Regions from separate parts of the Homo sapiens genome. Here region 2 is linked to region 1. The links come from fine-mapping of genetic effects on gene expression. A gene starts in region 1. The other region holds a variant in brackets. All regions are shown on one strand. Distances are from middle to middle.

Region 1 (11,816 bases):
AGTTAATGAGGCGCTACATTAATAATTTTCAGGTTATTGAGGCTCTGTGAATACCAAAAACAGAAATATAATCCAGAAAACCACACTAAAAACCCAACAGGCAAAAATATGGGGTCCAGTTAGTAGTACTGAAAACACACAATTCTTACTGTATTTCTATAGTTCCTTCATCCAACAAATGTTTATCAAGCACTTCTGCTATATCAGGCACTGTTCCATGAGCTGGGGTGAACAAATGGGCCAAGTCCCTGTTTTCATGAAACTGCATTCTAATGGAACAATTAACAATTGTCAGGTGGAAGTAAGTGTTATGCAGAAAAATGAAGGGAGGTCAGGGCATAGGGTTACTGTCAGGCTATTTTAGAAAGGCTGGTGAGGGCTGAACACTCATAACGTGACTTCTGAGCAGACTCGAATTAAAAAATGAGAACTTCACTAAATCCTATGATTCTTCAACGTTTTCAAGTTTGCATCCAAAAGACTGAAACACAGTAACTTCTTCCCTTTATTCTATAAATAGGGAAACTACCTGAACAGCTTCTAGAAAGTGGAGGGGGGGCCACGGTAGTTCAATCGTGGGGAAGAAAATGTTGAGGAATTAGATGATAAAGCCTGTTTGCAACAGTGAATTTTTAATCGTCAAAACTGAAGGATCTCAAAGAATTTTAATATGTACTTCCCCCACCCTGCTACCGTCAGAAGGAAAAGTTGTCATCATAACTGTTTTCTAAAGACAGAGATGAAAGGAACTGCTCAATTTCACAACTTGTAATTATTAGAGGGAAAAGTACTTAATGTTGAAAATATTAAGTGAACATTGAGAAGGAATATGAGACAAAGATCAGCACATCATTTTGGCTAGGAGAGAAAAAGAGCTAAAGGGAAAGAATGGTGCCTAAGCTAATTCATTCATTTTATGTGTTTCTTTATGATAAAGTTTAAGAAATTTTTTTCTAAAATACTTTACCTTCCTGAAACCACCAGAGTTCCATCATCGAGTAAATAATCCTTCACATTCTGAGGAAGTGGAAGAATGACACTAAAAAAAAAACACCAAAAAAGGCATCATTTTAAAAGACCAACTATAAGCAGAGAGAAAAATCTCTACACTTGATTAATTTTGGAATTGTCTTTCTTTTAATATAAAGTAGAAAATGTTAATGATGTACATTTGGTAGCAGTAGACAAGAAATCAGAATAATAAGATTACTGCGGTTCATCTTATTGCCACAATGGTCTTTGTAGTAAACAAAAACCAGCCAAATCCAAACCACCAGATGGAAATCACAGTATGAAAGCAACAAGCTCAAAAGGATTCTGAGTGAGCACAACATTTATGTGTCTTTAAGAAATCAGAGACCAGCAGATATTTGCTGCAACACAGGAAATGCAGCAAACCCAACTAGAAGATGACTAGCATTTGGTCACCTTCTAAAGATAGAGGGCAGAAGTAGAGTCAAGATCTGGAAACCATTCTTGGGTTGGCAGTGAGCACCTACCGCTAAGAATTCATGATACTTTTGGATGTGTCTTGCTGGCTTTCTATTCAACTGATCACCAGAGATATAAAGCTGCTTAAACTAGGCATGCTTTAGCTTAATTTGTTTCAGGTAATCATAATTAAGGATGGCAAAGCCATACCTGAAGTCTCTTAAAAACTTATGGGATAATTTGTTTTTTACCTTGAAATAATAAATTATCAAAAAGCCCTACCACAGATCCCTAAGAGTGCTGGTATTATTTTGATTTTGAGGCATATACATCTTCAAAAAGTGGAAAAGATTACAGCCTGCTTTCCCGAAGTTAACAGAACATCAATGACTTATAACATGTCTCATTTATTTATGGAAGAAGTTTTTTTTGGCACATTACAAATGGTTTTTTTGCACAAAAAAGAGTATTCATGGGCTACTTCGGTTTTAAAAATAAGTATTTTTATTTATTTTTAAATAAATAAAAGATCACTGCCACTGCACTCCAGCTTGGGCGACAGAGCAAAAACTTCGGTTTTAAAAATAAATATTTGATTTATCAAAGGTACAATTTCACATTCAAAAATCTAGTTCTGGCCGGGCGCGGTGGCTCACACCTGTAATCCCAGCACTTTGGGAGGCCGAGGCGGGCGGATCACGAGGTCAGGCAATCGAGACCATCCTGGCTAACACGGTGAAAACCCCGCCTCTACTAAAAATACAAAAAATTAGCCGGGGGTGGTGGCGGGCGCCTGTAGTCCCAGCTACTCAGGAAGCTGAGGCAGGAGAATGGCGTGAACTCGGGAAGGGAAGCTTGCAGTGAGCCAAGATCGCTGCCACTGCACTCCAGCTTGGGCGACAGAACAAAACTCTGTCTCAAAAAAAAAAAATCTAGTTCTTCAGGCTTTTAATTTCTTCTAACAAATCTTATTACGTTTGAAAATCTACTAAATTTTAAACAATTTCAAGCGAAACTTTGCAACTTAAAAGTCTCTTTAAAATTTTAAATTCTATTCATAAACCACTCAATTTTCTTTCTTAATATGTCTATTTGCTGATTACAAATAAGCCTTCCTAAGTATTTTACTCTTACAAAGCTAACAAGCGAAATTGTTAAGTACAATGAATCTAAGGTTCTACCACACATTCCAATACTATTTAAGAACTTGAAACTTTTCTTATACATTTTAACCATTCTAAGCCAGTTACACATTTTCAAGTACATATCCGATCTTTATTGAATGAAACCATCATATAATGAATCAGCAATTACTGAAATGTTGGCTCAGAAAATCAGTTAAGTGCAAAGCCCAGATTTTCTATCAACGCCTTTAAAAAAACTGAGAGATGAAATTGTATATATTAATACTTGCCGCCTACCTGATGTTTTTAAGTATATATACACTGTGGAATAAATTTAGCTAACAAATGCATTGCCTAACATAGTTATTTTTGTGGTGAGAACACTAACATCCACTCTCCGTTTTTCAAGAATACGTATATCGTCATTAACTATAGCCTCCATGCTGTACGACATATCTGTGAACTTGTTCTCGTATCTAACTGTAATTACGTATCCTTTCACCTTCCCAATCTCCATCCTCTGGGGTGATGGCGAAAAGCAATTAATTCTCCGAGTGCACTTAGGCAGTGATCACCTTGCGCCTGGGGCCATTCTAAAAGTAGTGGTGGTGAACTCCCAAGCCTAAACTAGGTTAATCCACTATTCCTCCCGCCTCCGACCCTCACTGAAAACCACAACTGACCCTCCTAGCCAGCACACTCGCTGGCTCGCAACAGGACGCAGACAATTGCTGATGTACTTCCCTCTCGACACACTCCCTCCCATGCAGTCGCTAGAAGGCCTGCATTTTTTTGGATAGCAGTAAGATTCGCTCAGAAGTCGCAGTTCCCTTTTGCCGGTCGACCGGGCGAACCCCCTCCCATCTCACCTCTTGATGGTAACGCCTCGGAAGAACGGGTACCACGCGGAGAACTGGCAGTGAAGCACATGCTCCTTCTTCATCCTCCAGCTGCCGCCGCTGCTGCCTTTCCCTCTCCTGCCTGCACCCTCCCGGAACTCTGGGCGCCGGCCCCGGAAGTGCCCGCCGAGCTATTTTGGTTCAAGGACTCTTCCGGTCCCTAAAGCAAGAAGGAAGACCGAGAAAAGGAAGCGGAGGAGAATCCCGGGGCATACGCTTGACACACACGCATACAAAAAGAGCTTTAGTCTCGAAAGAGGAATTACCGAAGTGTCGAGAGAGGAATTTTAAGAAGTTTACAACTCCGTCTTCGCCCTAAACGCACGCTGACCCGGAAAGTAATCTCCTGAAGCTAGGTCAAAGGCGGGGGTTCTACGGATGCCGGAAGGAGGGTGCGCGCCCATCCTTTTAGCACCGCGAGAGGCGCCGGTGTTTCGAGCCGTGGCACCGGCATCGGCTGACACTGCTGCCTCCAGCTAGTTATTTCGTCCTCTTCCGTTCTTCACCCCTACACCTTGGAGTAAGTAACCGGGGCAAGCCAGTCACAGCACAAAACCTCTTTGGGGAGGAGAAGAAGAAGGGGAAAGGGACCACATCTGCATGGTGCGTGCAGCCGCGCGGTGTCTCCCAGGCTGCGGCTGGGCACGCGTCCAGGCGCCCAAGAGGGAAACTGGGGATTGGAGGGAAATTGTGGATTGGAGAGGAAGAGCCTGGGCTACTCCGAGTAAAGAAAGCGGGGAACACCACAGCTAAGTGTTAGTTCCAGTGTAAAGATTGCAGCATCTGCAGAGGAGTAGAATGCTTGGTAGAGGGAATACCGCCTGTACGATCCTGGAGGGTTCGACTTTGGGAGGTAAAAGGCGAGAGGTAAATGTGAGAAAGCAGAGGAAAGAGGAGTCTCCTTGGAGCGCTGAATTCGTTTAGTCTGGCCTCGCAAAAGTTGTCAACCTGGAAAAAACGCAGATTTTTATCAGTATTCCTGCGATGATCGAATCATAAGACTGGAAGAATTCGAATCGAACTTGTACTATCGTTTTTTCCTTTGCTTCACTCCTGTCACCCAGCAAAGTTCAGTTTTGTTTGTTTCGTTAAAAGAATGAGAAGTAACTAGCTGCTTTTATTTATTTATTTGAGACGGAGTCTCACTCTGTGCCCAGATTGGAGTGCAGTGGCGCAATCTTGGCTCACTGCAACCTCCGCCTCCTGGGTTTAAGTGATTCTCCTGCCTTAGCTTCTCGAGTAGCTGAGAGCGCGCGCGCGCCACTACGCCGGCTAATTTTTGTGTTTTTAGTAGAGACGGCGTTTCACCATATTTGCCAGGCTGGTCTCGAACTCCTAACCTTAGGTGATCTGCCCGCCTCAGCCTCCCAAAGTGCTGGGTTTACAAGGCGTGAGCCACGGCCCCGGGCCTACCAACCAGCCGCTTTTAACCCCTAGTCGTGTCGCTTACCACACGAGCTTTAGGCTTGCGCGAGGCATCTGCGTCTAAAAGTATCTCCTTAAATGTACATTCTTCCTGGTTCACCTAAGTAGTTTTAAATTAGAAACAGCCCCACCGACTGCAGGCCTCTTCAGAAGGGTGTTCCTTAGAATAATAAACAATTATCTGCGTATTTTGAGTTAGAAACTCTTCCCCCCAGGAATATATACATTGTTTTGGGTTGTGTTTTGTTTTTCTCAAAAATGTTACTGGCTAAGTGGCTAGTTGGAAGCAGTGCTTTAAAGAATACATTTTCAAAGCAGAGGTAAATAGATTATAATGTTGCAGAGTATGTTGGTGGGGATGGACAGTCATGATTCATCATTTATGCCTTGATCCGGAACTATGCAGTCCTTTCTGATTTGAGGGAAAGAAGCAATATTGTATATATGTCTGGAGGGTGGTGCCAGAAAGACTTAATGGCAGACAGGAGCAGTCGCTCAAATAATTGTTTTGATTTGACTTAGAAAGTAAAAAATTGCGCGGAAGGAGATGTTAGCATCGATGGGGGATTTATTTAGGTCAGATGTTTTCTAATGAAGATAGGAATGAATGTACGGAAGAGAATAGATCCCGGGAACATAGCCCTTCTGCGAGGAGCAGTACTTTAACAGCCCAAGAAACATTTGAGCATAGGCCGGGCGCGGTGCCTCATGCCTGTGATCCCAGCACTCTGGGAGGCCGAGGCGGGCGCATCACCTGAGGTCAGGAGTTTGACCAGCCTGTCCAACATGGCGAAACCCCGTCCCTACTAAAATATCAAAAATTAGCCGGGCGTGTTGGCGCATGCCTGTAGTCCCAGCTACTCGGGAGGCTGAGGCAGGAGAATCGCTTGAATCCGGGAGGCGGAGGTTGCGATGAGCCGAGATCGCGCCACTGCACTCCAGCCTGGCAACAGAGCGAGACTCTTTTTTTTCCGTCTCGGGAAAAAAAAAAAAAAGAGTGTAGAGATTAAGGCAGTTGCAAAGCTTTAATATAGAATTGCAGTTGTGTGTAGAAAAGCAGCTAAGTTTGTAAGCTTAAATATATAGATACTACAGGGAAGGAATTTTTATAGATACCTTTTATTCAGGCAGTATACTTTAGAAGTGTGTTCAATGACTTTTTGGTATTACAGTTGGTTTTAAGTAACTTGTTACACATTTAACCAGCATCAAATAAATTGACATTATACATAGGAGATGCTCAAATACTTTGAATGGATACAGCTAAATGAGGGTTCACTGTATTTTAACCACCGTGGTTGTCTTCACTAAGCCATGAAGTCATTGTATTCATCAAGTTTCTCCAATAAAACCTTTCAACAGTGGAAATATTTGCTTTTTCTCCTGCATGCTGAAAAGTCAGTAGTCATGTGATTATGGGGGAGGAGATTTATTGTGCAATTCCTAATGAAGTAATGAAAAAACACATTTCTTTCTCTGAATCCATAGCATGACTAATCATCCTAGATTAAGATTTTCACCTGTCTGCTGGTTTTCTTCATCTGGATGTCTGCTATCACCTCAAACAAGCGTGTACAGATTTGAGCTCTGCATCACCCCTTTTTTCTTCCGATGTCCCAGTCTCCCTTAAAACTGTCTTCGTGGAAATTAAATGTCACTTTGCCACGGCTACCACTCTACTCCAGACCTGTCATCTCCTGCCTGGACTATCTTTACAGTGTCGTTACTATACGTCTGTAACCAATTCACCTTCCCAAGGGTCATTACAGTCAGTTCACTCTTGCTCAACCAGCATTAAATGTGAGGATTTTAAACCACCTGCTAAATGATTCCTGGAGATCACCAAGTAGCATAATTTCAGTAAACGTTAATTACTCCCTGCCCACCCAACTGCCACACCTGAAGAGAATGAAAAAAAAACCCATAAGTGAATTCAATTGTGGGTACCCAAATTTTTTACCATAAATGGCACAAAAGAAGGATACATCAGAATATTATCCTTTTTTTTTCTTTTGAGACAGAGTCTCGCTCTGTCGCCCAGGCTGGAATGCAGTGGTGCAATCTTGGCTCACTGCAACTGCTGCCTCCTAGGTTCAGGCTTTTCTCGTGCCTCAGTCTCCCAAGTAGCTGGGACTACTGGCGTGTGCCACCTCACCCAGCTAATTTTTTGTATTTTTAGCAGAGATGGGGGTTTCACTATGTTGGTTAGGCTCGAACTCCTGACCTCAAGTGATCCACCTGCCTTGGCCTCCGAAAGCGCTGGGATTACAGGCATGAGCCACCGAGCCCGGCCAGAATATTATCTTTTAAAAATAGAATTTAAAAATTTTTAACTATGACCAAAATTATTAAATATAACTGCAAATTATTTGATTCTTTGTTCCTTCTAAATCAAGTGACTTTTCTTTGTAATTATTCTGCCAGAATGTAGATTGCCACTTTAGACATGCCCAATTTGATGCCTGACTTTAACAAGACAATCATAAAGTAAGTTATTACTGCAAAAAAAATTGATCCTCTCTCCCACTTAATTTCTTTTCTTTTCTTTTCTTTTTTTTTTTGGAGACAGAGTCTCACTCTGTCACCATGCTGGAGTGTAGTGGCATGATCTCGGCTCACTGCAACCTCCACCTCCCTCGTTCAAGCGATTCTCCTGCCTCAGCTCCCCACTTAATTTCTTTCAAAGTGCCTTGTTGATTTCCCTATTCAATTATTAAACTGTTCCAAGTGCCTGACCCTCTTTTGTCAGTCAGAGGCTCTACTTATGATGTGGGCTCCTGCATCTTGTATTTGGTTGAGTATTGTTGATATTAACAATATTCATCTTTTATCAGGAGAGACCTAGCCAACATACAATTTCTTGTTAGGATTTTTTGCTTCACTTTGCAGCCTCAGCAGATGGCCGGGATTCGGGTACGGTGATTGAGTAATGAGCCTCAGTGCCAACTGCAGAACCAGGCTTTTGAGTTCATAGTTTAACTTCTGGAATCTAAACTCCCACTTAACTCTTTATGCAGCTGTTGTTACTAATACTGGCATACTGAAGTTGGTGAAAAATTAATCACTTCCTCCCTTTCTGTAGAGGGCTGTACTTGCTGCCTAACCCCAAAATTAGTTTATTTTGGTGTTTGTTTTTTCATTTTTTACATAGGATCTCACTATGTTTCCTAGGGTCATCATGAATTCCTCAGCTCAAGCGATCCTCCCACCTCAGCCTCCACAAGTAGCCGGGACTATAGGCACATGCAGTGCATGGCACTGGCCCCCAAAACTACCTCATATCACAACAGTAATTTGTGCCATGCCAGTTAGCTTTGTGTGCTTTGTTGGCCTGCAGTTTTGGGGGCAGAGATCCAGCCAAATCTGTGTATGGCCTTAGAAATGTGTTCGCAAATCATCATTATATGTGGAGTTGTTTTGGGAGTTTTGTGGTGGTGGTTTTTCCTTTGTGGTTTTTTTTGTTTTGTTTTGTTTTTGTTTTTGAGACGGAGTCTTGCTCTGTCGCCTAGGCTGGAGTGCAGTGGCGCAATCTTGGCTCACTGCAAGCTCCACCTCCCGGGTTCATGCCATTCTCCTGCCTCAGCCTCCTGAGTAGCCCGGACTACAGCGCCCACCACCAAGCCTGGCTAATTTTTTTGTATTTTTAGTAGAGATGGGGTTTCACCATGTTAGCCAGGATGGTCTCGATCTCCTGACCTCGTGATCCACCCGCCTCGGCCTCCCCAAGTGCTGGGATTATAGGCATGAGCCACTGTGCCCGGCCTTTCCTTTGTTTTTTAAAGGAGAAAGTGGAGGAGGAGCTTGAGAACCACAGAGCTCGCCATACACTCAGAATTTCTCACCCTTGCCCCGGTGTCTCTGCCTTTGTTCATGTGGTGTCTTCTAGTTGGAATGCTTTCTCTGCACTCTTGGTCTCTAAACCATGTCTTCACATCAAACTATCTTTTAAAAATCTTGGCTGGGTGTGATGGCTCACCCCTGTAATCCCAGTGCTGTGGGAGGCCGAGGTGGGTGGATCACTTGAGGTCAGGAGTTCGAAACCAGCCTGGCCAATATGGTGAAACCCCGTCTCTACTAAAAATGCAAAAATCAGCCGGGTGTGGTGGTACAGGCCTGTAATCCCAGCTGTTCAGGAGGCTGAGGCAGGAGAATTGCTTCAACCTGGGAGGTGGAGGTTGCAGTGAGCCGAGATCATGCCATTGCACTCCAGCCTGGGTGTTGCAGCGAGATTCAGTCTCAAAAAAAAAAAAAAAAAAAAGGCTTTATCATTTTCCTCACTGCCTCCCAAGGGGATGTGTGTGTCCCTCCTTTAAAACATCCTGGTATGGTGGTGTCTCTGAGGCAGGTCTTTGCCCCAGATGTGCTTGCTAAACTGTAACGTGCTCAAGGGCAAGCATAGTGGTCAGTGTGCACTGAGTATATACACAGACGTTTCCACTGCTGGTGCTCTCGAAGCTAGTTAGAGACTGCTAGTTAGCCTGCCACTGTGCAAGACGTCTAAAAATCTTACAGCATTTCCCCTCACTAGTGTTTTTTTTATGCTCTGGAGAATTACACATCCAACACATCCTAGACCTTCAGTGTTCAAACTGAACTGAGTTAAAACGATTTATGAGAATTAAAACAGCTTGTGACTTTAAAGACTAAGGAAAATCATAAATGAAATTGTAGAACACTCGCTGGCGCGGTGACTCACGCCTGTAATTCCAGCACTTTGGCAGGCCGAGGCGGGTGGATCACGAGGTCAGGAGATCGAGACCATCCTAACACGGTGAAACCCCGTCTCTCCTAAAAATACAAAAAATTAATCAGGCATGGTGGCAGGTACCTGTAATCCCAGCTACTTGGGAGGCTGAGGCAGGAGAATGGCATGAACCCAGGAGGCGGAGCTTGCAGTGAGCGGAGATCGCGCCACTGCACTCCAGCCTGGGCGACAAGGCAAGACTCTGTCTCAAAAAAAAAAAAAAAAATTGTAGAACACTCAACATCGTGTACATGTATCTTTTTCATACCATACACATATTGGCAATATGCAAATTACCTTAAATTCTAACTAATGAAGTGGATAAAATTTATATCAAAGTTTGCTTTTAAATCTTGAAATAGCGTTGAGTCAGTGAAGGCAAACTCCGTTGCAGTGGCGGAGACGCTGGCTTACAAAGCACGGAATTTAAAGCTCATTTCTCGTTCTTTCTGCAGCGTGTTGCTGGCAGTGACTGGCCCCCGAATGGCACTATTTGGCTTCTGCTTTTGAAATGGTGCTAAAAACAACATTCCTTTTCTGTTTCTAAAAATTTCTGAGGTACTTTTACAGTCCTTCTGAAATGTTTGGGAATCTCATAGTTAAGAATATGCTCTTGAAATAGCTCATTTTTGTCATTCACGGAATCAGTGGATTGCTGCACGATACTGTTTCCCTTTGAGGCTGATTGCATTCCAAAGAAATACTCTCTTTTAGCGGCCAGGCACGGTGGTTCACGCCTGTAATCCCAGCACTTTGGGAGGCTGAGGCTGGTGGATCACCTGAGGTCAGGAGTTCGAGGCCAGCCTGCCCAACATGGCAAAACCCCATCTCTACTAAAAATGTAAAAATTAGCCGGGTGCAGTGGTAGGAGCCTGTAATCCCAGGTACTCGGGAGGCTGAGGCAGGAGAATCGCTTGAATCCGTGAGGCAGAGGTTGCAGTGAGCCGAGATCATGCCTTTGCACTCCAGCCGGGCAACAAGAGCGAAACTCCATCTCAAAAAAAAAAGTTTACCTAATAAATTATCATCTATGGTACTTTCAAAGGAATAAGTGCCTGTTTTCTTAGTAGGGCTGCAGGTTTCAATATGCTAATGTCTGTCTCTAAATATTTAAACTTCTACGTGGTTTACTTCCTTATTGCTTTCAGGTCTCCATTCAGAAGTCACCAAATTAAACAGGCCTTGCCTGATCACTCCGTGTAGATTACTCTTCCCATCTTCCCCACACTTCTCATCCTTTTTAATCTTTCTTCATGAAACGCTGAGTCACTTGACATAAATTTTGTGTTCTTCCTCACTGTTTTTCCTTTCTCCTCACTGGAAAATGAGGTCCGGGGGAGTGAGGGTCTTTGTCCCTCTCACCACCACTTTTTTTTTTTTTTTTTTTTTTTTAGATGGAGTCTTGCTCTGTCGCCAGGCTGCAGTGCAGTGGCACGATCTCAGCTCACTGCAACCTCCATCTCCTGGGTTCAAGCCATTCTCCTCCCTCAGCCTTCCCTGTAGTTGGGGCTACAGGCGCACCCCACCACGTCCAGCTAATTTTTGTATTTTTAGTAGAGACAGGGTTTCACCATGTTGGCCAGGATGGTCTCCATCTCTTGACCTCGTGATCCACCCGCCCTGGCCTCCCAAAGTGCTGGGATTGTAGGCGTGAGGCGTGAGCCACCGCACCCGGCCTCACCGCCACTTTCCTAAAACATCATCTCACCTTTCACAGGTTGGCCACAAGGGTTACCTATGATAGTCAATCAGATATTTGATTTGTAAACGCACTTTATGAATATTCATACAGTTGGTTTTGTTATTGATTGTATTTTAGAATAGGGAAGCTTGCTGTCTTGGGGACAAATTGAAGATCAGATGGGTAGTATGATCACTTTGGGTCCCAGAAGAAACAAAGAGCAGACTCACTTTTTCCTTTAGGACAGTTGGGAAGAGAGTTGATGCTGGGTGGGCTGTATTTTCTTTGAAGCCGAAGTTAGGTGGGGTAGGTTAGAGAACCGTGGAACGTAAGAGTGCAGTGGCGTGATCTCGGCTCTCTGCAACCCCCAACTCCTGGGTCCAAATGACCCTCCTGCCTCAGCTTCCTGAGTAGCTGGGACTACAGGTGCCCACCACCACACCCGGCTAATTTTTTTATTTTTTATTTTTGTGGAGACAGGGTTTTGCCATGTTACCCAGGCTGGTCTCAGA
Region 2 (13,196 bases), 60 kb before region 1:
AGTCAGATTCTCAGGTATGAAGGTTATAGGACTTCAACATATGAACTTTGTGGGGACAATTTCCTCTCTCCTGCCCGCTCGCAGTGACTTGGAATACTCTTGAGGGTGTCTCCATCTATTTTGTATTATATTTCATTATCTGGAAAAGCTTATTAATCTAAGCATTTTGTTCCTGCCTCAGGAGCTTGTCATATAAACAAACACCTAGACAACTAGCAATTAATACAATAAAGCAGGTAACGAGCTGCTGGTTTGATAATGTGGACTGTAGCTCTCTAGAAGCTCAAAGAAGGAGGACAAAGGTATAGTGGCTACATTGATCTGGGAGGGCCTTAGGAGCAGGAGGGGTTAACAGATGCTCACATAAGGCCTAATATTTAAATAGGGGTTCTAAACCTTAGCAGTACATTAGAATTATTTGGGGGATGTTTAAAACTACTGGGCCTTGGCTGGACGCGGTGGCTCACGCCTGTAATTCCAGCACTTTGGGAGGCCAAGGCAGGCGGATCACCTGAGGTCACGAGTTGGAGACCAGTCTGACCAACATGGGGAAACCCCGTCTCTACTGAAAAATACAAAATTTAGCCGGGTATGGTGGCACATGTCTGTAATCCCAGCTACTCAGGAGGCTGAGGCAGGAGAATTGCTTGAACCCGGGAGGCAGAGGTTGTGAAGAGCCGAGATTGCACCATTGCACTCTAGCCTGGGAAACAAGAGTGAAACTCTGTCTCAAAACAAACAAACAAACATAAACAACAAACTACTGGGCCCAGCTGGTGGCTCATGCCTGTAATCCCAGCACTTTGGGAGGCCGAGGCAGGCAGATCACCTGAGGTCAGGAGTTTGAGACCAGCCTGGCCAACCACTGCCAACATGGTGAAACTCCATCTCTACTAAAAATACAAAAATTAGCCGGGTGTGGTGGCAGGCACCCATAATCCCAGATACTCAGGAGGCTGAGGCAGGAGAATCACTTGAACCCGGGAGGCAGAGGTTGCAGTGAGCAGAGATCATACCACTATGCTCCAGCCTGGGCAACAGAGGGGAGACTCCCTCTCAAAAGCAAAAGACAAAAACAAAAACAAGAACAAACTACTGGGCCCCAGAGATTTCAGTTTAATTGGTCTGGATGAGTATTCTCCATTGATTAAGAAAAAAATACTCTCCAGGTAATTAGAATACACAACTAGGGGCCGGGTGCAGTGGCTCATGCCTGTAATCTCAGCACTTTGAGAGGCCAAGGTGGGAGGATCCTTAGGTCAGGAGTTTGAGACCAGCCTGGGCAACATAGCAAGACCCCCCCCCCACCCCACCCAATGCACATACCTGTTTCTATGTGGAAAAAAAAAAAAAAGAAAGAAAAAGAAAAAGAGTATATGGCCGGGTGCTGTGGCTCAAGCCTGTAATCCCAGCACTTTGGGAGGCCAAGGCAGGTGGATAACGAGGTCAGGAGATCGAGACCATCCTGGCTAACACAGTGAAACCCCGTCTCTACTAAAAATACAAAAAATTAGCCGGGTGTGGTGGCGGGCGCCTGTAGTCCCAGCTACTTGGGAGGCTGAGGCAGGAGAATGACGTGAACCTGGGAGGCGGAGCTTGCAGTGAGCCAAGATCGCGCTACTGCACTCCAGCCTGGGAGACAGAGCAAGACTCCGTCTAAAAAAAAAAAAAGAAAAGAAAAAGAATATACGACTAAGACTGAGAATCTCTGGCCTAAATGAACAGATGAGCTTAAGGAGGGCATTCATATTCCAGGTGAGCAGGAAGCTTCGAGGGGAGGCAGCAAGCAGGAATGCCGCGGATATTGAAAGAACATGGAGAAGGCAGACTTGCTGGGAGCTGAGGATGTTTTAAGGGTCGTGGAAAATAAGTTTACACAGATCAGAGTGAAATTACATGGGGTATATGGAATCTATATCAAACAAGAAAGGCAGGAGGAAGATAGAAGCAGGTTTGCAAGCCCAACTGGTTGGTTATTACAGACAGACAGATGTGAGGTCCTGAGGGTACTGGATGGAGATGCAGAAAGGATCATAGAGAACACTGGGAAGGGTCCCGGCGTTGTGGATCATGCTTGTAATCCCAGCACTTTGGGAAGCTGAGGCAGGAGGATCTGCTGGAGCTCAGGAGTTCAAGACCAGCCTGGGCAACATGGCAAGACCTTGTTTCTGCTAAAAATAAAAATAAATTAGCCAGGCGTGGTGGTGTATTCCCGTAGTCCCAGCTATTCAGGAGGCTGAGGTGGGAAGATAGCTTGAGCCTCGGAAATTGAGGCTGCAATGAGTCATAATCATGCCACTGCACTCTAGCCTGGGAGACAAAAAAATAATTTTAATTTTTTTTTTTTTGAGATGGAGTTCCACTCTTGTTGCCCAGGCTAGAGTGCAATGGTGCAATCTCGGCTCACTGCAACCTCTGCCTCCCAGGTTCAAGCAATTCTCCTGCCTCAGCCTTCCGAGTAGCTGGGATTACAGGCACCCGCTGCCACACATGGCTAATTTTTGTATTTTTAGTAGAAATGGGGTTTCACCATGATGGCCAGGCTGGTCTCAAACTCCTGACCTCAGGTGATCCACCCGCCTTGGCCTCCCAAAGTGCTGGAATTACAAGCGTGAGCCATGGCACCCAGCCGGATACTGAATCTTGAGCCCAGTGTCATCAGGACAGAAGGCAGAATCTCTCTAGTAGCTAAGTCCTGGGATAGTGTCTTTTGCGTCTCCAAAGTTTTCCCAGTCTCCGTTCTCTCTGTGGAGCTTACACACTTTGCGCCAATTTCCTGAGGCACCTCACATCCTTCCAGTACATGCTTTCATTAACTAGAGTTAGTTTCTGTTGTTTGCAACCAAAACTGCTTAACTGATTGACCATACTTCTTCCCATTATTCGAGTTTTGGGGGAGCATTATTTTGCATTCAAAATCCAGAAGTGAGCAAATCATACCCTGGGATCTTTGTCTCTCCTTTCTTAAGACTCATTCGGGCCTAGCGCGGTGGTTTATGCCTATAATCTCAGCACTTTGGGAGGCGAAACCCCGTTTCTACTAAAAATACGAAAATTAGCCGGGCGTGGTGGCGGGTGCCTGTAATCTCAGCTACCAGGGAGGCTGAGATGGGAGACTTGCTTGAACCTGGGAGGCGGAGATTGCAGTGAGCCAAGATTGTGCCATTTCACCCCAGCCTGGGCTACGAGAGCAAGACTCCATCCCCCCTTCCCCCCTGCTGGCCAGAAAAAAAGATTGATTTGGACATTCTCATTTTGATTTCAAAAAAGACAAGTCTGTGGCCACCAAGGGTGATGAGAGGTGGCCATATGATGTCCTTTTCACTCCTCATACCTATAAACTCATTGAGAGGTACCAGTGACCTTTCTGCACGGACTGTCTTTTAAATTGTCTGTTTACAATGCTGTATCCATTTATACTCCATTTATTTCCCCATGAGGACCTGAGAGTGGCCAGGCATCGTGGCTCATGCCTGTAATCCCAGCACTTTGGGAGGCTGAGACGGGAGGTTCACTTGAGTCTAGGGGTTCCAAACCATCCTGGGTAACAAAAAAAATGAAAGTAAAATCAGCCAGGCATGGTGGTGTGTGCCTATAGTCCCAGCTACATCTGAGGCTGAGTTGGGAAGATCGCTTGAGGGCAGCCATTGGAGGCTGCAGTGAGCTATCATCATGCCACTGAACTCCAGCCTGGGCAATAGAGCATGACCCAGTCTCCAAAAAAAAAAAAGTATTTGAGAGTATTCCTTCCTCTCCATTCCTTCTTTCCTATGTCCCTACCTGGCGCTTTTTTTTTTTTTTTTTTTTTTGAGACAGAGTCTCGCTCTGTTGCCCAGGCTGGAGTGAAATGGCATGATCTCGGCTCACTGCAACCTGTGCCTCCTGAGTTCAAATGATTCTCCCGCGTCAGCCTCCCGAGTAATTGGGATTACAGGTGCCCAGTACCACGCCTGGCTAATTTTTGTATTTTTAGTAGAGACGGGGGTTTCGCCATGTTGGTCAGGCTGGTCTCGAACTCCTGACCTCAATTGATCCTCCCGCCTCGGCCTCCCAAAGTGCTGGGATTACAGGCTTGAGCCACTGCGTCCAGCTCCTGGTGTCCTCTTTCTTTTTTTAGACGGAGTTTCACTCTGTCGCCAGGCTGGAGTGCAGTGGCCCGATCTCGGCTCACTGCAACCTCCGACTCCCTGTTTCAAGTGATTCTCCTACCTCAGGGTCCCAGGTAGCTGGGATTACAGGCATGTGCCACCACGCCCAGCTAATTTTTGTATTTTTAGTAGAGACGAGGTTTCACCATGTTGGCCAGGATGGTCTTGATCTCCTGACCTCATGATCCACCTGCCTCGGCCTCCCAAAGTGCTGGGATTACAGGCATGAGCCACCGTGCCCGGCCTCCTGGTGTCCTCTTTCTTTGGTGACTTTTTTTTTTTTTGTAAAGAACTAAGAACTCCAATGCTCTCAGCATTACCAATACATGCAAAGGAGGCTATGCTTCTTTTGTAAGTGAGAGAAACTCAGTCTGGCTTTGGAAGCTTGAGCTTTCATTGACCTGAGATATATGCCTTTCACAAGGTGGAAAACAAATGTTCCTAAAAGCAATAACATTACTTGACATTTTTGTAGCATTTTTTGTCTTCAAAGCAATTTGTAGACATTAAAGAATAAGCTGTCAGCCCTTCCCAGATAAGAATCATTGCCTAAGTGCTTAGTACAACCCTGTCCTGTTCCTCAGACCTAAACAGTGGGCCCTGCTTATAAACTGTGGCTGAACAAAATGACTTCTTAGGAGGAGAAAACAGAGGGAGGGTGGGGGAATGAACTCAGTTGGAAGGAAGAAAAGAAGACGACCTGCAATTTATCTAGTACATATTGTGAGTCTGGGGTGACAGTTTGGAGAACACTAGGGCTTCAGCCTGGCTCTGTGCCTGTTGCCCAGGCTGGAGTGCAGTGGCACAATCTCGGCTCACTGCAACCTCCACCCCCCAAATTCAAGCAATTCTCCTGCCTCAGCCACCTGAGTAGCTGGGATTACAGGCACGTGCCAAAATGCCTGGCTAATTTTTTTGTGTTTTTAGTAGAGGCAGAGTTTCACCATGTTGGCCAGGCTAGTCTCAAACTCCTGACCTCAGGTGATCCACCCACCTTGGCCTCCAAAAGTGCTGGGATTATAGGTGTGAACCACCGCGCCAGGACTCTTCCTTTCTTTCCTTTTTATCTATTTTTTTTTTTTGCGCGGGGAGGGGAGGCGGTGCAGTGGTGAGATCATAGCTCACTGCAGCCTTGAACTCCTGGGCTCAAGCGATCCTCCTGCCTCAGCCTCCTATGTCGTTAGGACTACAGGCATGCACCAGCATGTCTGGCTAATTTGTCTTTAAAAAAAAAAAACAACTTTTTTTAGAGACAGGGTCTTACTATGTTGCCAGTATCATTTTATTTTGGTTTTCTTTGATTAAAAAAAAAAAAAAGACGCACCTGAATGCATTCTCTCTTTAGGTCATTCATGCCAGACTTTTTGCCTAACCGTATAACTTTTAGCTATTTCTTCACTACATTTTTGTTACGATGTCTTAGATTTCTGTTCCTCAATCTTTTTGTTTGTTTGTTTTTGAGATGGAATCTTGCTGTTTCAGGCTGAAGTGCAGTGGCACAATCTTGGCTCACTGCAACCTCTGCCTCCCAGGTTCAAGTGATTCTCCTGCCTCAGCCTCCCAAATCGTGGGGATTACAGGTGCGCACCACCACACCTGGCTAATTTTTTGTAGTTTTGGTAGAGACGGGGTTTCACCATGTCGGCCAGGCTGGTCTTGAACTCCTAACCTCAAGCAATCTACCTAACACGGCCTCCGAAAGTGCTGGGATTACAGGCATGAGCCACCATGCACGGCCTAGTCCTCAAGCATCTTTCTTTTTTTTTCTTTTTTGGAGACAGAATCTCACTCCGCTGCCAGGCTGGAGTGCAGTGGCGTGATCTCAGCTCACTACAACCTCTGCCTCCCGGGTTCAAGCAATTCGCCTGCCTCAGCCTCCCGAGTAGCTGGGACTACAGGAATGCACCACCGTGCCCGGCTAATTTTTTGTATTTTAGTAGAGACAGGGTTTCACCATGTTGGCCAGGATGGTCTCGATCTCCTGACCTTGTGATCTGCCCGCCTCGGCCTCCCAAAGTGCTGGGATTACAGGCGTGAGCCACCGTGCTCAGCTGTATCTTTCTAAGGTGTATACATACCTGCACTGTGTGTGAGTGGTAAGTTTACCGTGATTTATTCTTTCCTTAGCATGAGCCAAGGACAACATGTGAATAAAACAATGTTTAGATCCTGCTACAGGGAAGGTTTTGGGAAAGTCAACATCTTTGGGGAGCAGTTTCGTCATCTGTCAAAAAAGAAAAGAAGGGACTGGGCGTGGTGGCTCACACCTGCAATCCCAGCACTTTGGGAGGCTGAGGTGGATGGATCACCTGAAGTCAGGAGTTTGAGACCAGCCATGGTCAACATGGCGAAACCCCGTCTCTACTAAATATATATATATATTTTTTTCTTGACTCTGTTAAAAAGAACGTGCCTTTCATATACTGTACAGAAGTCTGCCAAGCAGAATGATTGACAATAGCTACCATTTGTCTGTGGTCTGTGACGTGCAGTGCACTACGCTACAGGTTTATGAGTTATCTCACTTAACGGACTCCAGAAAACTCTTCTTACCCTTTGCAGGTAACAAACTTAGTCAAAAAAACTGTCACATAAGGTTTCTGCTTGTTTTTTAACGATCCTCAATCATCAAAAAGAGAAATGGTTGAGATGAGAAAACCTTACGAACTCAGAAAATGCAAATCAAATGAGACTCTTGAAAACAAAACTGGCAAAGCGTGCTGTCTCCAGGAGGCCCATGCGACATGACACCACCTGCAGGACAAAGCACATATTTACCCCAACCCTTCAAAGGCAACTGCAGCAGCGTCTTCTCTTCAGAAGGAAGGACTGCAGGGACACGCTGAGGAAGCACACAGGTTTCCATTTTCTGAATTCAAGCACAAGCCTGAGGTACCTCAAAGAAAGAACAAATGCCAGTAAAATAAAAGGACGATTCAAAACTTAAGAGCTGGGCGCGGTGGCTCACGCCTGTAATCCCAGCACTTTGGGAGGCCGAGGCGGGCGGATCTCTTGAGGCCAGGAGTTTGAGATCAGCCTGACTAACATAGTGAAACCCCATCTCTACTAAAAACACAAAAATTAGCTGGATGTGGTGATGCATACCTGTAATCTCAGCTACTCAGGAGGCTGAGGCAGGAGAATTGCTTGAACCCAAGAGGCAGAGGTTGCAGTGAGCTCAGATCGTGCCACTGTATTCCAGCCTGGGAGATAGAGTGAGACTCTGTCTTAAAACAGAAGTAATTTTTAGGCAGGCATAAATTATACTGGGCTTTAGGAGAATATTTCCTGCATAGTATCCTATATTTCCTGATATTAACATCAGGAAAATCAACTAAAATTAAATACACTAAGTAAACAATGCACAAAAATCACATTTTAGAAAGTGACCTGGGAGTTGAAGTCCAGTTTCCCCAGGAAAATGTGCGCAAAAGTGTAATGAGAATTGTACAGTTTATGAACTCTCTGCCAAATTTTGCTTGGGTCTTTTTATTTTATATAGTCTGAATATAGTTTTCTTTTTTGTGGGGGATGGAGGCTCGCTCCGTCACCCAGGCTGGAGTGCAGTGGTGCAATCTCAGCTCACTGCAACCTCCGCCTCCCAGGTTCAAGTCATTCTTCTGCCTCAGCCTCCCAAGTAGCTGGGACTACAGGCGCCCACCACCACACCCAGCTAATTTTTGCATTTTTAGTAGAGATGGCATTTCACCATATTGGTCAGACTGGTCTTGAATTCCTGATCTTAGATGATCTGCCGGTCTCGGGCTCCCAAAGTGCTGGGATTACAGGCATGAGCCACCACATCCAGCCTAGTCTGAATGTTTTCAATTGGTATCAAATATATTTACTTTTTTTTTGGCTTGGTAAAATGCCATCTTGACAAAGCCAGCTTCCAGAGCTAAACTTAAAATCAACCCTTGATACTAAATCCATCATAGGTGGATAGGCACCTGTAAGCAGTTTAAAAAAACAAAAGTATTTCTGAAGTACCTGTACATTAAACAGTTGAGGCCAGGGGCGGCGGCTCACACCTGTAATCCCAGCACTTTGGGAGGTCGAGGCAAGCAGATAACCTGAGGTGAGCAGTTCAAGACAAGCCCCATCAACATGGAGAAACCTCATCTCTACTTAAAATAAAAAATTAGCTGGGCATGGTGCCACATGCCTGTAATCCCAGCTACTCAGGAGGCTGAGGCAGGAGAATCGCTTGAACCCAGGAGACAGAGGTAGCGGTGAGCCAAGATGGCACTATTGCACTCCAGCCTCGGCAACAAGAACAAAACTCCATCTCAAAAACAAACAAAAAAACAACTGGCCCCACAAATGGCAATTGAGGCCAGACACAGTGGCTCACACCTGTAATCCTAGCAGTTTGGAAGGCTGACGCAGGAGGATTGCTTAAGGCCAGGAGTTTGAGATCAGTATGGGCAACACAGGGAAACCCCATCTCTACTACTTAAAAAAAAGAAAAAAAGGGCATCTGATGTACTGAATACAAAGATCAAGTACTGAGGACGAAGATTACCACCGGATACCACGTCGGGCAGGTACCCTGGGAAATTGTGATGTCTGTATCCTTCAAATTGCTTGGTGATGTCAACTAATACAGAAAGAGCTCTTAGTAGAATGTCTGGCACATCATAAAGCCTCGGTAAATTAGGCACAATTGATATCATCACTTAAAAATGGTGGCCTTTTAAAAACGCCACATGGCAAAACCCCATCTCTACAAAAAAATACAAAAATCAGCTGGGCGTGGTGGTGTGCACCTGTAGTCCCAGTTACTCAGGAGGCTGAGGCAGGACTGCCTGAGTCCAGGAGATTGAGGCTGCAGTGAGCTGTGATTGTGCCACTGCACCCCAGACTGGGCAACAGAACAAGACTGTCCCTAAACAAAACAGGGCGGGCGTGGTGGCTCACACCTATAATCCCAGCACTTTGGGAGGCCAAGGTGGGCAAATCACTTGAGGATCAGGAGTTCCAGACCAGCCTGGCCAACACGGTGAGACCCTACCTCTACTAAAAATATAAAACTCAGCTGGGTGTGGTGGCATGCACCTGTAATCCCAGCTACTTGGGAGCCTGAGGCAGGAGAATCGCTTGAACCAGGAGGTGGAGGTTGCAGTGAGCCGAGATCGCACCAGTGCACTCCAGCATGGGCGACACAGCGAGACTGTCTCAAAAAATTAAAATTAAAATAAATAAATAAAATAATGACTCGGTAGAAAAGCAACGTATTTCATAGAAAGCATTTTATTATCAGAACAGTATGGTTTTCCTATGTTTAAGATCTATTTATTATGTTATTTTTACAAGTAGCAAAGTCCCTCCGTTTTTTTCCCCAGGTGAATGTACATGAATATAAAAAG[T/C]GGCTGATGTCCACACTGCTCGGCCCACCCGCATCAGGGTCGGCAGGAAGTTGCGGCTGATGAGCAGCTCCCGGAGCGGTGGGGCGGGGCCTCCTCTTCTCCAGTTCCAGTACGCTCATCAGTCGTCCTCCTGCTGATTTCTCTTCTGTCAAAGAAAACCAAGGGGATGTTAAAATAGCACATGCTCCTTGGGATATCTGCTCAGCAGGTGTAATTTTCTAGAGGTCTTGGCAAAGGATGTAATTAAAAATTGTCATGGAAAACCATGCTTTAATTCATTAAACTAGTTTATCACTTTGACTCCTGAGCAAATTATCCTCAGGTATTTGAGTATTTTCTTCTCTTTCTTCCATACATACAAAAACTCCTACACAGAAATCCACACAAAAATATAAATATTCACATCCCCTCTTGAGTAAAATCACCACCAGAGCAGAGACCTGCTCTCCTTACAGCCTTCTAACAATATACACACTTTCTTCAAAGTTACAAGTATTTTGAAAAATGTTCAAAAGGCATGTACAGCATAAAAACATTTTCTGTCATTCTAATCAATAAATTATGCCTTCAGCTCCTATTTCATATTTAATTAGAAAATGCTCTAACTCAGTAACTTGGTTCCATTCATAACCATCAAAGTCTAGGTGATACAGGATTCCAATGAAATATTATATAAAAGCCAATTTGAAGGTCTATTTGAAAAGATGGCCAGCATACTAAATGCACATAGACTTTACCAGCTTAAGGAAGTCTATTAGCTTGTGAGCGTCCTCCCCAGTAGAGAGGTCTACAAAGTCCTTGGGTAGCCGGTAACTCAAATAGGGGCTGGGCTGGACTGTCACTTCACTGTTTGTGCAACGGAAAGCTGGGGAATCCTGTACAAAGAAGAAAAAGGAGAAAGAATATCAATCATTTATTTTTAGGCCTATTCTGTGAACTAAAAAAGAACCTAGCAAAACAATTTCAACTCCATGTTTTCCTCTGTACTTGATGAGGAGAAAGGAAGATGCTTAAGTTAAAATGAGCCGGGCACGGTGGCTCACGTCTGTAATTCCAGCTGGAGTGCAGTGGCTCACTGCAGCCTCGACCTCCTGGGCTCAGGTGAACCTCGCACTTCAGCCTCCCAAGTAGCTGGGACTATAGGCATGCGCCACCACGCCCAGCTGAGTTTTTTAAATTTTAGTACAGAAAATATCTCAGTATGTTGCCCAGGCTGGTCTTGAACTCCTGAGCTGAAGCAATCCTCCTGCCTTGGCCTCCCAAAGTGTTAAGATTATAGGCTAGGTGGGCTGTTGCACCCATGCCAAACTATTTTTTTTTTTTTTTTTGAGGCAAAGTCTCGCTCTGTTCTCAGACTGGAGTGCAGGGGCACGATCTCTGTTGCCCAGGTCTCTGTTGCTCACTGCAACCTCTGCCTCCCAGGTTCAAGTGATTCTCCCACCTCAGCTTCCCAAGTAGCTGGGACTACAGGCGCGCGTCACCACGTCCGGCTAATTTTTGTATTTTTAGTAGAGATAGGGATTTCACTATGTTGGCCAGGCTGGTCTCAAACTCCTGACCTCAGGTGATCTGCCTGCCTCGGCCTCCCAAAGTGCTGGGATTACAGGCATGAACCACCATGCCCAGCTGCCAAAACTAATTTTTTTTTTTTAGACGAAGTTTTACTCTTGTTGCCCAGGCTGGATGCAATGGAGCAATCTCAGCTCATCGCAACCTCCACCTCCCAGGTTCAAGCGATTCTCCTGCCTCAGCCTCCCGAGTGGCTGGGATTACAGGCATGCACCACCATGCCTGGCTAATTTTTTTACTTTTAGTAGAGACGGGGTTTCTCCACGTTGATCAGGATGGTCTCGAACTCCCAACCTCAGGTGATCCACCTGCCTCAGCCTCCCAAAGTACTGGGATTACAGGTGTGAGCCACCGCACCTGGCCTGTTTTTTTTTTGAGACGGAGTCCCGCTCTGTCACCCAGGCTGGAGTGCAATGGCGTGATCTTGGCTCACTGCTGCAACATCCGCCTTCCAGGTTCAAGCAATTCTCCTGCCTCAGCCTCCCAAGTAGCTGGGATTACAGGCATCTGCCACCATGCCCAGCTAATTTTTTGTATTTTTAGTAGAGACGGGGTTTCACCATGTTGGCCAGGCTGGTCTCGAACTCCTGACCTCAGGTGATCCACCAGCCTCGGCCTCCCAAAGTGCTGGGATTACAGGTGTGAGCCACTACGTCTGGCCCAAAACTATTTTTTAAAAGATATAAAATGCTCACAAGAGAACACTGTGAAAATCTCAGGACATGTAATTGAGTATGTAGTATGATTTCATTTATTTACAAAGGTCTATGCATGTGTTTAAATGCACGTTATGTATCAAAATATAAACACTGGTTCTCAAGGTTCTCAAATCATAAGTGATTTTATAATTTTCTTTAAGAATGAGCACGTTACTTTTTTTTTTTTGAGACAGTCTTGCCCTGTCGCCCAGGCTGGAGTGCAGTGGCACAATCTCGGCTCACTGCAAGCTCTGCCTCCCGGATTCATGCCATTCTCCTGCCGCAGCCTCCCAAGTAGCTGGGACTACAGGCGCCCGCCACCACGCCCGGCTAATTTTTTTTTTGTATTTTTAGTAGAGACAGGTTTTCACCGTGTTAGCCAGGATGGTCTCGATACCCTGACTTCCTGATCCGCCCGTCTTGGACATGTTACTTTTATGGGCAGAAAACAGCACTACAAAGTTGTTTCAGGAAAGTCTGGCTGTGAAGCTGGCAGGAAAGGAGAGAGTGGCTGGGTGAAGAAACCGGGTTGAACAATGTTTTGTTTTTTTCGGATGGGAGGTATCTGAGCATGACTAAATCCGGATGGACAGAGTTGATAGAGAGGAAGAATTGCAAAAAGAGCAGAGGGCATCTGGAGAAAGAGGAGGAGGACACAGTGTCCTGAGGGGGAGGTAAGAGAGGAGGACACAGTGTCCTGAGGGGGAGGTGAGAGAGGGGGACACGGTGTCCTGAGGGGGAGGTGAGAGAGGAGGACACAGTGTCCGGAGTGGGAGGTGAGAGAGGAGGACACAGTGTCCAGAGTGGGAGGTGCGAGAAGAGGACAGTGTCCTTAGGGGGAGGTGAGAGAGGAGGACACAGTGTCCTGAGGGGGAGGTGAGAGAGGAGGACACAGTGTCCGGAGTGGGAGGTGAGAGAGGAGGACAGTGTCCTGAGGGGGAGGTGAGAGAGAGGAGGACACAGTGTCCAGAGTGGGAGGTGAGAGAGGAGGACAGTGTCCTGAGGGGGAGGTGAGAGAGGGGGACACGGTGCCCTGAGGGGGAGGTGAGAGAGAGGAGGACACAGTGTCTGGAGTGGGAGGTGAGAGAGGAGGACAGTGTCCTGAGGGGGAGGTGAGAGAGAGGAGGACACAGTGTCCGGAGTGGGCGGTGAGAGAGGAGGACACAGTGTCCAGAGTGGGAGGTGAGAGAGGAGGACAGTGTCCTGAGGGGGAGGTGAGAGAGAGGAGGACACAGTGTCCTGAGGGGGAGGTGAGAGAGGAAGACACAGTGTACTGAGGGGGGAGGTGACAGAGGAGGACACAGTGTCCAGAGTGGGGAGATGACAGAGGGGGACACAAGTGTATGGAGGGGGGAGATTAGACTCAGGAAGGGACGGACAAGCTTGTAGGTGTGATGAGAAATCAACTGAGG

Which allele goes with the higher level. Alleles are on the strand shown, and positions count from the first base shown. SD is a standard deviation of normalised expression in the study named.
In carriers of allele T in region 2, the expression in skeletal muscle of the gene that starts at base 3,556 in region 1 tends to be lower than with C alone (small effect, 0.17 SD a copy in GTEx).

What was found.
Region 2: its variant is fine-mapped to the expression of CDC123 in skeletal muscle (GTEx, PIP 0.95).

What each region holds. Positions count from the first base shown.
Region 1 is chr10:12,187,928-12,199,743 of GRCh38, reverse strand. CDC123 (cell division cycle 123) reads right to left here and starts at 3,556. Exons shown (of 13, transcript NM_006023.3): 1 at 3,425-3,556; 2 at 968-1,039. The coding sequence starts at 3,498. NUDT5 (nudix hydrolase 5) reads left to right here and starts at 3,853. Exons shown (of 10, transcript NM_014142.4): 1 at 3,853-3,974. RefSeq lists enhancers at 3,540-3,809, 8,816-9,666.
Region 2 is chr10:12,246,777-12,259,972 of GRCh38, reverse strand. It overlaps CDC123 (cell division cycle 123), which reads right to left. Exons shown (of 13, transcript NM_006023.3): 12 at 10,255-10,392; 13 at 9,384-9,662. The coding sequence ends at 9,636. Among named protein-coding and RNA genes, the nearest start is that of CDC123, 57 kb to the right of the region's middle. The variant T/C (reference allele first, on the strand shown) is at 9,518.